4 linked regions of the Homo sapiens genome follow. The protein of the gene in region 3 purifies or fractionates together with the protein of the main gene of each other region. This does not show direct contact. Each region holds a gene or a part of one and is shown on either strand. Other genes may lie near its edges.

Region 1 (3,325 bases), on a different chromosome or scaffold from region 3:
ATAAATAGCCTATCTGAAGACTGGTTTTTATTATAACTAACCGTATCTTCGAAATCTCTTGCAGCTATGAAATACTATCTGCCTTATGCCATTGCTCATAAGAGTAATATGACATCATTGTAACTTTCAGGGAATACTCACTTTCAGGAAGAATTTGAATCCCTGTATGATTACCAACCAGGCATGCCCTTAAAGATTTACATTATGAAAGCAGGTAGAGAGCAGAAATTATCTCCACTCACCCTTAGTAGCTGAGGGATGGAGAAAGGTTGTGGTGAGGGACGTAGTTATAATTGAGGCAATTATGAACCAATATTTGAATTATGTTATTTTAACACTCCTGTAAGAGATTTGAAAGCAGTCACCCCTCAGCCCAAATCCAGGATCCACCACTGCTGCAGTCGGACATAATATATGTTCAGCAGCAAGGGTTAATGATTAGCATCAGTCATTTATCTGCAAGTTCCAAAGATGTACGAGTCCCCAGTGATGCTGAAAAGTGGAGGCCTGATGGGGTTGCTAGTATTCTGGCCAATATATTTCTGTGATGTTGACTTTTTTCAATGAATAACTTATAAAAACTGTCTCATCAGGGTGATAGAACAGATCACTCATGAACTCTCATGGATTCTGCCTTATGGAATGATTGGTTAATAGTCATTGAACATAAACTTTCAAATTTTTCTGTAACTATTTAATCAGTCTCATAATCTGAAAGATTCTGCATTTAAAAAAATTGTATATATGTTGGAACAAATTATAATAAGAAATGACATGATTGCTCTAATATGTAACTTAGTTTGGGTCTAGCTTGATTCAGAAAATATGTTGATTTCTAGACCAAAAGTTTTAGAATATAGGTTTGAATATAGTTTTATAACACGGTTAAAATTCTTAACTAGCTATTTTAGTTTGGTTGGTGGTTCATTTAAAAAGTTGTGTTTCAGGCTGGGCGTGGTGGCTCACGCCTGTAATCCCAGCACTTTGGGAGGCCAAGGAGGGCAGATCACGAGGTCAGGAGATTGAGACCATCCTGGCTAACACGGTGAAACCTCGTCTCTACTAAAAATACAAAAACAAAAAATCAGCCAGGTGTGGTGGCGGGAGTCTGTAGTCCCAGCTACTCAGGAGGCTGAGGCAGGAGAAGAGTGTGAACCCGGGAGGCGGAGCTTGCAGTGAGCCGAGATCATGCCACTGCACTCCAGCCTGGGAGACAGAGCGAGACTCTATCTCAAAAAAAAAAAAGTTGTCACTCAATAAAAAAGCATGTTTGGTATTTGCCTAAGCCTCTCAATTCTAGTGGGTGTTTTGCTAGAATTTTGTAGGTGGCAAGGGGCATATTAAATCACAAACAATACTAATGCTTAGTTTTCGTATATTTTAAAACAAAGAAAAACTCTTGATAATCATTGAGCAGATATTATAATACAGAAATTAAGAAAAATTTATAGTTATGAAATGTAAATTTGGAACAAGAAGACATTTCTGCAGGAGTCCAGTCTCCTAAGCTGTGTGTTTATCTCATTTTTAAAGCAATTAACCTTGGTAAATTATTACTTTATCTTATGTTTTGAGATATATATGTAATATATATTTTTTACTAAGGTCCCTCTTCCTTTTTCAAATACTAATATGTTTAACAGTTCCTCTTGCAAAACACTTTTTTTTTTATCATTTGGTTAAAGGACAAAAATTATTACTGCTAAAGTGGTTTGAGTAGATTGTAACTCTAAAATATTCAAATAATCTCCTTAATATTTATATTGAGGTTTTAAACACAAACTCATGACTTACCACAAACATTACTTCCCATTTTGACATGGGCATAACCATCTACTCCCCAAGAACTTCCCCAGGAATTCCGCACAATCCAATATGGAGTGCTTCCTACAGTGAAACATAAATAGTAACAAATCCTGAAAACTCAAATTTGTTATGAATGTTTAAGTTTCTTTATTTTAAGTTGGATTCTTGCTAAGGATAGTAGCTCTGAGAAGAAGATTAAAAATGTAATTTAATGGTAACTTAAACTACTTTATTTTAACTAAGTAAACCTGAGCAGTACTTACGGACACTCTCCAATCAGTAGAAATATATGTTTGAATTCACTTCCCTTTATACAGGGACTGCATAAAATGAAAACAAACACTAATTTCCAAGGAATCAGAAAAAGAAAAAAGAACTTTTAGATACGTATGATAAAATAATATGCACTTACCTTTTCCCAACAATTATTCTAAATGTTCCCGATACAGTTTTATATCAACAAAAATTATCATCATTTTAACAGGATATCCACTCAAAAATTGACAGGTGGAATCTGACAAGACATTTACATTGGGAACAGGCCCCCCAAATCCGGCCATAAACTGGTCCCAAAACTGGCCATAAGCAAAATCTCTGCAGCACTGTGACATGTTCGTGATGGCCATGACGCCCACGCTGGAAGGTTGTGGGTTTACCGGAATTAGGGCAAGGAACACCTGGCCGAACCCTGGGCAGAAAACTGCTTAAAGGCGTTCTTAAGCCACAAACAATAACATCAGCAATCTTGTGCCTTAAGGACATGCTCCTGCTGCAGACAACTAGTCAGACCTATCCCTTTATTTCGGCCCATCCCTTTATTTCCCATAAGGAATACTTTTAGTCAATCTATAATCTATAGAAACAATGCTTATCCCTGGCTTGCTGTCAATAAATATGTGGGTAAAGCTCTGTTCGGGGCTCTCAGCTCTGAAGGCTGTGAGACCCCTGATTTCCCACTCCACACTCTATATTTCTGTGTGTGTGTCTTTAATTCCTCTAGCGCCGCTGGGTTAGGGTCTCCACAACTGAGCTGGTCTCGGCACATTTACTCCTATAAGATTGTTGAGAAGTTGTGAAGGTCTTATGAGGACTTAATCATAGCAGAACCAAATTTCAATGTTCTACAGTATGGTGATCATTTTGCACTCAGTGTCCATGCTGGAAAGCAGTCAACTGAGTCTTATCAGCACTTACCTGTTTTATCAAACCCAGTTATGAGAACTGCATGATTTGCTTCTCCACTAGAGCAGTGATGCTGTATAATGCCTCCCAGATAATCTTGCCAGCTCACTGCATCTACTATGACTACCAAAGGGCCAAAGGTAAGAAGTGCTTTTGCCATTTCATCTTCTTGGTCACTACCAAAAGAGGAAATATTTGGTTAGAAAATTTAGTTTTTAAGGTAAAAATAACAATGATCTATATAATCTGTGTATGATTCTGAGTAGGTTTGGTTGCAGTTACAAAGGACCTAAACAATGGAAGCTAAGTCTGAGAGACTGGTAGTCTATGGCTGGGA
Region 2 (3,701 bases), on a different chromosome or scaffold from region 3:
GTATGAATTCAAGATAAAATGATTTAGTCATAGGCAAATAATAATTTTATATTCAGAATGTGAACAGAATTACAATGACAAATTAGGAAATACAGTTGCACTGCAAAGTAAAAAGATGCTATGAAGGAAAAGTTGGGATTCAGCAAGTAGTGTCAGCCAATGAACCATCAGCATTCAAGACTGGCTCTATAAAGCAGAATCCATGGCAAATAAAACTTAAATTTTCTTTAAATTTACAAAGGAAAACCAAAACTATGTGTACCTGATACAGTTAGTTAATTTACTTTCTCAAATTGTAATGTAGAATCAACTTGGTCACTTATGTTCCCAGCTATTGTGATGTATAACCCTATAGGTATAGTATATATAAATGCAGCAACAACATTTTATCATTGAGCAACTGTACTCAATAATTATATGTTGAATAAATTAAATATTCTGCCAATCATCCCACTACTCAGCTGCAACTAGATGACAAATTTTCTTCTTTTTTGAGATGGAATTTTGCTCGTCACCCAGGCTGGAGTACAATGGCGCAATCTTGGCTCACTGCAACCTCTGCCTCCCAGGTTCAAGCAATTCTCCTGCCTCAGCCTCCGGAGAAGCTGGGATTACAGGCACCTCCCACCATGCCTGGCTAATTTGTGTATTTTTAGTAGACACAGGGTTTCACCATGTTGGCCAGGCTGGTCTCGAACTCCTGACCTCAGATGATCTGCCCGCCTCAGCCTCCCAAATTGCTGGGATTATAGACGTGAACCACCGCACCTGGCCTTTTTTTTTTTTTAAATTTTTTTTTTTTTTTTGAGATGGAGTCTTGCTCCATTGCCCAGCCTGGATTGCAGTGGTATGATCTCAGCTCACTGCAACCTCTGCCTCCCGAGTTCAAGTGATGCCCTTGCCTCAGCCTCCCAAGTAGCTGGGATTACAGGTACCCACCACCACACCCAACTAATTTTTGTATTTTTAGTAGAGGCGAGGTTTTGCCATGTTGGCCAGGCTGGTCTTGAACTCCTGAGCTCTGGTGACCTGCCCACCTCGGCCTCCCAAAGTGCTGGGATTACAGGCATGAGCCACCACGCCTTGCCTAGATAGCAAATTTTCATTCACATAAGGTGGCATAAACAATATCCATCCTGACAATGTCCAAATGATAAGGCCAATTTGATCTAGGAGGGAAAATATGGAAGATGACGACGAAGTGGGAAAAAAGGGCAAGAAGAATGTTTAAAAATATAATAGTACTAACATGGTTTCGGCTATGGTAAAGTACAAAGATTATATTAATAAATAGCAATAAAGGCTATTTTTAGGAAGAAGAAAGCAAAAGCAAAGAGAATATATATGTATAACTTTGCTTTTATCTGGGAAGAGAGAAAAAAGAGAATATATATATATAACAACTGAGAAGACAAGAAACTTGGGAAAAACAACATAATTTGTTAGGGAAGAGACTAGGCATTCAGATTTTTTAAAGATGCATACAAATGAAAGAAAAGCTAACCATGGTAGACTATCCTTGGGATAAGTTTGTTTGTTTGTTCTGAGACACAATTTCATTCTGTCACCCAGGCTGAAGTGCAGTGGCACAATCTCAGCTCACTGCAACCTCCACCTCTTGGGTTCAAGTGATTCTCGTGCCTCAGCCTCTCAAACAGCTGGGATTACAGGCACGTGTTATCATGCCCAGCTAATTTTTGTATTTTTAGTAGAGATGGGGTTTCGCCATGTTGGCCAGGGTGGTCTTGAACTCCTGACCTCAAGTGATCCACCTACCTCGGCCTCCCACAGTGCTGGGATTACAGGCGTGAGCCACTGCACCCGGGTTTTTTTTCTTTTCTTTTCTTTTCTTTTCAGATGGAGTTTTGCTCTTGTCACCCAGGCTGGAGTGCAATGGTGCAATCTTGGCTCACAGCAACCTCCACCTCCTGGATTCAAGCGATTCTCCTGCTTCAGCCTCCCAAGTCACTGTATTACAGGCGCCCACCACCAAGCCTAGCTAATGTTTGTATTTTTAGTAGAGACAGGGTTTCACCACGTTGGCCAGGCTGGTCTTGAACTTCTGACCTGAGGTGATCCACCCGCCTTGGCCTCCCTGAGTGCTGGGATTACAGGTGTGGGCCACCACGCCCGGCCATGAGTGAGAATTTTTATAAATTACTGGAAGAATATTTCTACTTTTGTAAAAGTTAATTTTACAAAATGACTTGGACTCTCTCATATACTGATATTTGGTAGCTTTTCTTCTGTTTTAAACAGTGAAAAGAATACAGTGTTTAAGATTCTTGAAAGTCCTACCTTATATGGGCTAATTAGTCTTCTTTTAATATCCAGTCTGTAGCTTCTGTATTGTTCGGCATCACTCATGTCAGTTACCAGTAGTCGAAGAATTTCATAAACCCTTCTAGCGTGTTGCTAGAATGAAACAAAAGAAAATGCGAACATTTTCAAAGTAAAAATAATGACACTTTCCCAAAAGAACACAGGATATATTTAATATCTGCCATGAGCAAGGAATTGTGCTAGAAACCAGAGGAAAGGCAATAAAAGTAGTTGCCCTCAAGCAGTCTAGTGGGTAACACAAATGATTATGGTATGGATAATTTAATGTGGCACGATCATAGTTCACTGCAGCCTCAACCTCCTAGACTCAAGCCATCCTCCCACCTCAGCCTCCTGAGCAGCTGGGACCATAGGCATATGCACCACACTCGGCTATTTTTTTTTTTTTTTTTTTTTGTAGAAATGGGATCTCACTTTGTTGCCCAGGCTGATCTTCAACTCCCAGCTTCAAGCAATCCTCCTGCCTCAACCTCCCAAAGTATTAGAGTTACTGGCGTAAGCCACTGCCCCAGCCTTCATGACAGATTTTAAATAGGAATGTAAGCAATATGCACAAATTTTGAGTTTTAAATAAGTCACTCTTTCAGCTACAAAGAAATGGTAGCAAAAAGAAGTGCATAGAGACCAATCAAGAAGCTGAGTTATTACATCACATAAAAAACGATGAGGGCATGAACTGGAACAGCACAAGAAGACCAAGGGGTCAAGGACTCTAGAAACATATGAGAGGAAAAACTGAGAGAAGGATGTGAAAATGTGAGTTTTCACAGCCTAGGAGAGATTTGGGAGGCAGCAGAAAATAGAAAATCTGAAGAAAATTCTAGTCTAAGGGCAAGGATTTAAGCAATGTCAGTATATAGGTAAGAGTTAAAACCATAAGGCTGGTTAAGGTCACCTGAGGAAAGCATATACAGTGATAAAAGGAGAAAGGTCAGAAACCTGCTAGTACAGTGACAGTTAAAAAGCAGACAGGGCTGGACATGGTGGCTCATGCCTGTAGTTCCAGCACTTTGGGAGGCCAAGGTGGGCAGATCGCTTGAGCCTAGCAGTTTGAGAACAGCCTGTAGGAACCCTGTCTCTACAAAAATTAGCCAGGTGTGGTGGCGTACCCCTGCAGTCCCAGCTACTTGGGAGGCTGAGGTGGGAGAGTCATTTGAGCCCAGGAGGTTGAGGCTGCAGTGAGCCGTAGCCGTGATTACACCACTGTACTCCACCTCAGGTGACAGAGCAAGAGACCCTGTCTCAAAAAAAAAAAAAAAGGAAAAGGAAAAAAAAAGACAAATGGTATCAAGGAAATATCAGAAGAATCAGGAAGTTTTTGGTAGCACTGAAGCCAAAGGAGAACCACAGTTTTTCTG
Region 3 (3,708 bases):
GTGGAACAGCTTCATCCCAAAACTATCCCCTCCACCCCATCTGTGGAAAAATTGCCTTCCACAAAGGTACCAAAAAGGTTGGGGACAGCTGGCCTAAGAAGAGTAGGAACTGAGACATCCTGCTGGAGGGACCATGGGGGTGGGAGGCAATGAACAACTGAAGAGAGATTTACATTTGTGGGGTTTCTAGAAAAAGACCAACAAATATGACTGCAAGAATGTTCTGGCAGCCCTGGGTCCTGTCCGGGTTGTTAAGCATTAATCCACAGGTTTGTAATGGTGAGTTTTCTGTGGTTCTGCACCTCGCTTTGGCAAAGTTCTTTGATTCTGGAACAGTAGTAGCTGCATAGAAAGTGGTGGCAGTGGGTGTGACCTTTAATTGAGAATTAGAATGTCAGGAGCTCCCAGGGTCAAGGAAATCATCATGAGTGGAGGAGTATTTGAAGCTACCCTCCTGTCATGGGGTCCAGGCTGGATGAGAGACTCAGTGGGCCTGGGCATGTTCTCATGAAGTTGGGAAGGTAGGTGCCTGAAGGATTCTGGTGTGGCTGAATGACAGGTTCTTTGGGTGTGGGACAGTGGGAGAGGCGACTAATAAGGAGGCTGTGGTCAGAGAGGGGAATGCAAATTTGTGGATGGGGTGAGAGCCATGACATGCTAAGTTCCAGGGTGTGCCCAGGATGGTATGCAGATGAAGTGTTTGTGCGGTGTCCTGACTGACAAAAATCATGTTCTGTGTGTTGGCCAGGAATAGTATTCAGCAATTAGGTTTATGACTAAGGGGAGTGTGTGTGTGTGTGTGTGTGTGTGTGTGTGTGTGTGTGTTTGTTGTGTGCATGCACATTGCATGTATAGTAGCCCTTACCTCTAAAAACAATTAAATAACATTTCTTTCCTTCTCATAAATATGCTCACAATTCTCATCAAAATGCTTATTAACATATTATATAAGATAATGGATCAGCAATAATGATCCGGAGGCTTTTGCTGTTGGGCCATTCATTTATTTGGTTCTTCGTTATACAGATTGTGGCTTTTCATGAATGGGCCTGTGTATGGCTCTGTCTTTCTGGATGTGTCCCTCTTAGCTCCATTCTATTTTATTAATTTCCCAAAGGGCAGGCACTATTTTATGTCCCTGCTACCCCCATAGCAATTCACACAGTTCTGTCTACCTAATCAATGTTTTCTGAATGAAAAGACCACAGTTGTTTTCCATCCTGACAACTTGTCTCCCCAAATAGGAAAGATGAGTATAGCAATGACATCAGCTAATACGGAGAATCTTGGAAGAGGGTTTTCTTCCAAGTGTACTTTAGTACATGGTGCTACAATGACATGTTCAGTCTCTGTTATCTTCAGAATGGGAAAACTCATTTCTCCTGCCTTCAAAAACATTCAAGTTTTCTCAATTGCCATCCCTTGTTTGCCTTTCTTTTCTTTCTGCCCTCATCCAATATTCCTCTTTCACTGTGATATCAAATTCCTTGGTCATGCAGTTATCATTTGTCTTTGACACTCTTCCCTTTTCTATGTGATGATCTTTTTCTTCCTTCTTTCTCTCCTTCTAATGGGGTTCTTCAGTTGGCCTTCCACTAAGAAGCTCTCTGAGAAGTCCAAGGAAAGCTGATAAACTTCAGCTCCTCTGAGAATACTTCCACTTTAACAGGTGATTTTAAAAAACAGAGATACATTCAAAAATAAAAAATAATAAAACTAGCAAGTAAGTGACAGGTAGTGGAGATTGTCCCTAAATTACTAGCATCTATCCATTTTCCCTATTCCTGCATGGGGACCTAACTGTAATTTTGGAGAAGGAATTGACTCAAGTTTCTCACCTATAAAGCGGTTATAATAATACCTGCCTCTTGGGGCTGTTTGTAGGGGCATAAATGATATAATTGACGTGAAAGTGCTTCCTAAACTACAAAGAGTTTTCCAACTCTTCCTCTACCTTCTAACACTGAATTGGAAATTGTGCCCTAAGGCTCACTCCTGCAAGAGAGGGCAGATAAGTGATAATTGGGGCTTTAACACCAGAGGAGCTGAACTGCCTCACAGTAATTATTCACCTGAAAGGAAGGAGGTTTGACCAGCAATCTCTAACATCTTTTCTGGTCCAAAACCTGTGATTATAAAAAAAGCACTTAATTGGATATTGTTTTATATTATGTTCCAGATATCTCGATTTTCCCAACTACCCTGTAAACTCCTAGAGGCCAGGGGCCATATCTTATAGACCTCATGTAGCTTCTATAATAATTAGCATAATGCTAGACACCTAGGAGATATACAAGAAATGCACCTACTATGAAATGATTCAGTGATATTCATTTCCTGTATTTATTTATTTATTTATTTTTTGAAACAGAGTCTCGCTTTGTTGGCCAGGCTGGAGTGCAGTGGCGTGATCATGGCTCACTGCATCCTCAACTTCCTGAGTGCAAGTGATTCTCTCACCTAAGCCTCCCAAGTAGCTGGGACTACAGGCGTGTACTACCTGGCTATTTTTTTGTATTTTGGAGGGGGTAGAGACAGGGTTTTGTCATGATGCCCTTGAACCACCCAGATCAAGCAATCTGCCCGCTTCTGCCTTCTAAAGTGCTGGGATTACAGCCGAGAGCCACCGCACCAGTCCTTCTAAGGAGTAAAAAATTTTATTTTGGCTGGGCGCGGTGGCTCACGCCTGTAATCCCAGCACTTTGGGAGGCCAAGGCGGGTGGATCATGAGGTCAGGAGATCGAGACCATCCTGGCTAACATGGTGAAACCCCGTCTCTACTAAAAAATACAAAAAATTAGCCAGGCATGGTGGCGGGCGCCTGTAGTCCCACCTACTCGGGGGGCTGAGGCAGGAGAATGGCGTGAACCCGGGAGGCGGAGCTTGCAGTGAGCCGAGACCGTGCCACCGCACTCCAGCCTGGGCGACAGAGCGAGATTCCGTCAAAAAAAAAATTAAATTTTAAATTTTTAATTTTTTTTTACTTTTTGAAATGGAGTCTCGCTCTGTCATCCAGGCTGGAGTGCAGTGGCACAGTCTCGGCTCACTCCAACCTCCACCTCCTGAGCTCAAGCAATTCTCCTGCCTCAGCCTCCTGAGTAGCTGGGACTACAGGCGCCCGTCACCACGCCCAGCTAATTTTCTAGTTTTAGTAGAAAACTAGAAAGTAGAAAGCTATGTTGGCCAGGCTGGTCTTGAACTCTTGACCTCAGGTGATCCGCCTGCCTTGGCCTCCTATATGGACTTAACTGTGAGGCTGGTGCTTCCACTGAGAAGACAAACTTACCACACTCTCTCCATTCAGTGTATTTCCGTTTCCTAACAAAGCTCCTCTGTGTTCTGCCACTGTGTGGTAGAGAGGGCAGGCAGTCAAACACTGGGGGTGAGCTAACTTCTTAACTAGGTGACTCTTTTTTTTTTTTTTTTTTTTGAGATGGAATCTTGTTCTGTGGCCCAGGCTGGAGTGCAATGTCATGATCTTGGCTCACTGTGGCCTCCGCCTCCCGGGTTCAAGTGATTCTCCTGCCTCAGCCTCTGGGTAGCTGGGATTACAGGCACCTGCCACCACGCCGGGCTAATTTTTGTATTTTTAGTAGAGACAGGGTTTCACCATGTTGGCCAGGCTGGTCTCGAACTCCTGACCTCATGTGATCTGCCCGCCTCAGCCTTCCAAAGTGCTGGGATTACAGGCTTGAGCCACCATGCCCA
Region 4 (3,701 bases), on a different chromosome or scaffold from region 3:
GTTCAGTAGCATTGAGTATGTTCACTTTGTTCTATAACAGTCACCATCAAGCTGCTGGTTTTCAAGATGCCTGTCTAGTGACATCAGATGCCAGCTCTTTTCAGAAAGATCAAAGTTATCTGTGAATGGACAAGTTCCAAATGCAAAACTTACAGAAGAGATCCAGGACCTGACAGAGTGCCCAGGGGAAAAAGCTGAGATGCAGAAAAAAAAAGCAGCAAGGGTCTGGCAGAGATTGACCCCTGAGGAACTCAGAACCCTGTGCTAAGGGGTAGTGGGTGTGCTTCTCTGCTCCCTTCACCCCTGCAACAATTCACTGACTGTCAAACTGTTGGGGAGCCCCTCTGCCCTCTGGATCACGGGCAATGCTGTCAGTGGTGACTTGGGGGAATTTTCCAGGGGCAAAGAACCAGGTGGCCAGCTCATGTTAAGCATGCCTACACTCCCCTCAGACCTGAACTGACATGGCTGAACTGAGCCATGCTGGTTGTGCACCTGTGGTGGGACACTGCCCTGCCCAGGGAATCTCTGCCCTTGAGTCACCACACCACGAGATTCCCCACAAACATACCCCACAACCCATTCTGTCTCTGGCAAACATGGGGCTGTTGGGTCCCTGTGGAGCTGTGGGAGCCCTGGAGATCTCACCCTTGGTGGGCTGCCCTGAAGGCAATGGGGAGCACAGCCCACTAAAGTCTCCCTTGGGACAAAGGAAATGAAGGAAGTGGCACCAATCGGTGAAGGGGGTAGCACTGATGGCTAGGAAGGGTTGTGGAGAGGGAGTCATCCACCCCTTGCCACCTTTAGCCACTGTTGAGGATGCAGTAGTGGTTCTTCTGGCTGGGGGCTGGTATATGTGCACCTGGAGAAAGCACTTATCACACTTTTTGTAGTGAATCCACACTCGCTGAAAGTGAGCCCATGCTGCTTGGGCTTGCACAAAGGGCAGGGCCCAACTCCCTGACCCTACACAAAACAGCAGCATCCTGGCAATGGAGGACACAGACAAGCCACAGAGTTGTCTGCTCTGGACTGGGGGAAGGGGCTCTGCCCCAAGACCATCTTGGTGGTAGCTGCCAAAATGGTATATCAGTAGCCCATAGCCACATTGCAGCTGGGAACCAAAGGAAAAAGTCTTTATGAACTGAAGGCTGGGAGCCCTGTGACATGGTGTGATAGGGGAAGCAGCTGGCATTCCTGCCTGGTCAGGATGAGGAGCTGGTGCACTTCCCCAACTGCTCCTTCCCCAAAGACCTCAGCATGCTCCAACAAAATCTCCTCCCCTCTATATCAGGGCAGGTGCTTCCGCTCATCATCAATCTACCTGTGGGTGGGCCAGCTCTTACTCTTAAGTGCCACCTACTGGACTAGAGCTTGAACTCCACCACCAAATAAAACACCTGCTGCCAGAAGGGCTGAGTGCTAGTGTATGTGATGAGACTTCCATACCCTCAGCCAAGCAGTAGATAGAGTGTTAGCTCATATGTCAAATATATTGCTACAACAAGCAGCATCCGAGAAAGCCACCACACAAAAGCTACCCACAATGAAGGACCCATACAGCACCTTGGTCCTCTGAAAGCACCTGGAAAGGAGGCCAAATGATCATACACAACATACAACATACCCTCAAGATAAAAAAGAATTACAAAATGTAAAAGTCCTATCAAAAGGACAGAAAATTAAAAAATAAACGTGACAGATCCCTCATATGAGAAGGAATCAGTGCAAGAACTCTAGTAGCAAAAAAAAACCTAGAGTGGATTGACACCTCCAAAGTATTTCATTTGCTCTGTAGCAATAGGTCCTAACAAAAATGAAAAGTCTGAAATGGCAGACAAATAATTCAAAATATGGATTTTAAGGAAACTCAATGAGATCCAAGAGAAAGTTGAAATCCAATACAAAGAAACCAGAAAAACAATTCAGGCTATAAAAGATGAGACAGCTATGTCAAAAAAAGAAAAAAAACCCAAACAATTAGAACTTCTGGAATGAAAAAATTCATGGAAAGAATTTCAAAATACAGTTGGAAGCTTTAACAATAACCTAGACAAGCAGAAGAAAGAATTTCAGAGCTTGAAATGTGGTCTTTCAAATTAATCCAGTCAGACAAAAATAAAAAAGAATTTAGAAAAATGAAGAAAGCCTTTGAAAAATATGGGATTATGTAAAGTGAACAAACATACAACTGGTTGGTATTCCTGAGAGAGAAGAAGAAAAAGAAAGCAACCTGGAAAACATATTGGAGACAGTAATTCAGGAAAATCTTACTAACCTTGCTAGAATCATCAACATCCAGATATAAGAAATTTAGAAAACTCTCGCAAGATACTACAGAAGATGATAGTCACCAAGGCCTATAATTATCAGACTATCCAAGGTCAACATGAAAAAAAAATTCTCAAAGGGAGGCACCTGAAAAAAAGGGATAAATTACCCATAAAGGAAATACCATTAGACTAACAGTGGACTTCTCTGTAGAAGCCTTACAAGCAAGAAGAGATTGGGGGTATATTTTTAACTCTCTAAAGGAAAAAAAAAAAAAGTCAGCCAAGAATTTTATACCCTGCCAAACTACACCTCATAAATGAAGGACAAATAAAGTTTTCCCAGATGAGCAAATGCTAAGGGAACTCTTCTTTACCAGACCAGTCCTACAAGAAAAGCTCAAAGAAGTTCTAAACATGAAAACAAAAGAACAATGCTTGCTACCATAAAAGTACACATAAGGCCAAAGTACACGGATCCTATAAAGCAATTACACAATTGAGAATACAAAGTAACTAGCTAACAACACTATGGCAGGAACAAAACCTCACATATCAATATTAACCTTGAACATAACAGCATAAAAGCCCCACCTGAGAAACACAGATTGGCAAACTAGATTAAAAAAAACAAGACCCAACCATCTACTGTTTTCAAGAGACCAATGTCACACATTATGACAGCCACAGTCTCAAAACAACAGAATGGAGAAAGATCTATCACACAAATGGAAAACAAAAAAGAGTAAGGGTTGCTATTCCTGTGTGAGATAGAAGAGACTTTAAAACAAACACATTAAAAAAAAAAGACAAAGAAGGGTATTATATAATGATAAAGGGTTCAATTCAATCAGAAAATTCTACTATTTTAAATGTATGTTTACTCAACATCGGAGCACCAAGATTTAGAAAACAAATACTACTAGACCTAAAGAGAAGAGATAGACAGCCTTACAATAATAGTAGGGGGTTTCAACACCATGCTGACGGCACTAGATAGAACACTGAGGCAGAAAACAACAAAGAAAATCTGGACTTAAATTGGACTCTTGACCAAATGGACCCAGTAAACACCACAGAACACTGCATCCAACAACCACAGAATGTATGTTTTTCTCATCTGTGCACAGAACAGTCTCTAAAATTGACTATATGATTGGCCATATAGCAAATCTTAATACATTTAAAAACATCAAAATCATATCAAGCATCTTCTCAGACCACAGTGGAATAAAATCAGGAATCATACCAAGAGGAACTATCAAAAACCACATAAGAACATGGAAACCAAACAAACAACTTGCTGCTGAATGACTTTTGGGTAAACAAAAGAATTAAAGCACAAATCAAAATATGTTTTGAAACAAGTGAAAATAGAAACAAAATATCCAAATCCCTGGGATACAGCAAAAGCAGGGCTAAGAGGAAAGT

The links.
Region 1: the proteins of CSTA (region 3) and CTSO purify together in Homo sapiens (affinity purification with mass spectrometry; one large-scale study listed by BioGRID and IntAct). This does not show direct contact.
Region 2: the proteins of CSTA (region 3) and HAT1 purify together in Homo sapiens (affinity purification with mass spectrometry; one large-scale study listed by BioGRID and IntAct). This does not show direct contact.
Region 4: the proteins of CSTA (region 3) and RNLS purify together in Homo sapiens (pull-down; one study listed by IntAct). This does not show direct contact.

What each region holds. Positions count from the first base shown.
Region 1 is NC_000004.12:155,926,542-155,929,866, forward strand, and holds part of CTSO (cathepsin O preproprotein), read right to left. Parts: intron 3,165-3,325; coding exon 3,001-3,164; intron 1,888-3,000; coding exon 1,795-1,887; intron 1-1,794. UniProt on the Homo sapiens protein: Proteolytic enzyme possibly involved in normal cellular protein degradation and turnover.
Region 2 is NC_000002.12:171,977,961-171,981,661, reverse strand, and holds part of HAT1 (histone acetyltransferase type B catalytic subunit), read right to left. Parts: intron 2,416-3,701; coding exon 2,299-2,415; intron 1-2,298. UniProt on the Homo sapiens protein: Histone acetyltransferase that plays a role in different biological processes including cell cycle progression, glucose metabolism, histone production or DNA damage repair. Coordinates histone production and acetylation via H4 promoter binding.
Region 3 is NC_000003.12:122,328,222-122,331,929, reverse strand, and holds part of CSTA (cystatin-A), read right to left. Parts: intron 1-3,708. UniProt on the Homo sapiens protein: This is an intracellular thiol proteinase inhibitor. Has an important role in desmosome-mediated cell-cell adhesion in the lower levels of the epidermis.
Region 4 is NC_000010.11:88,317,618-88,321,318, forward strand, and holds part of RNLS (renalase isoform 1 precursor), read right to left. Parts: intron 1-3,701. UniProt on the Homo sapiens protein: Catalyzes the oxidation of the less abundant 1,2-dihydro-beta-NAD(P) and 1,6-dihydro-beta-NAD(P) to form beta-NAD(P)(+). The enzyme hormone is secreted by the kidney, and circulates in blood and modulates cardiac function and systemic blood pressure.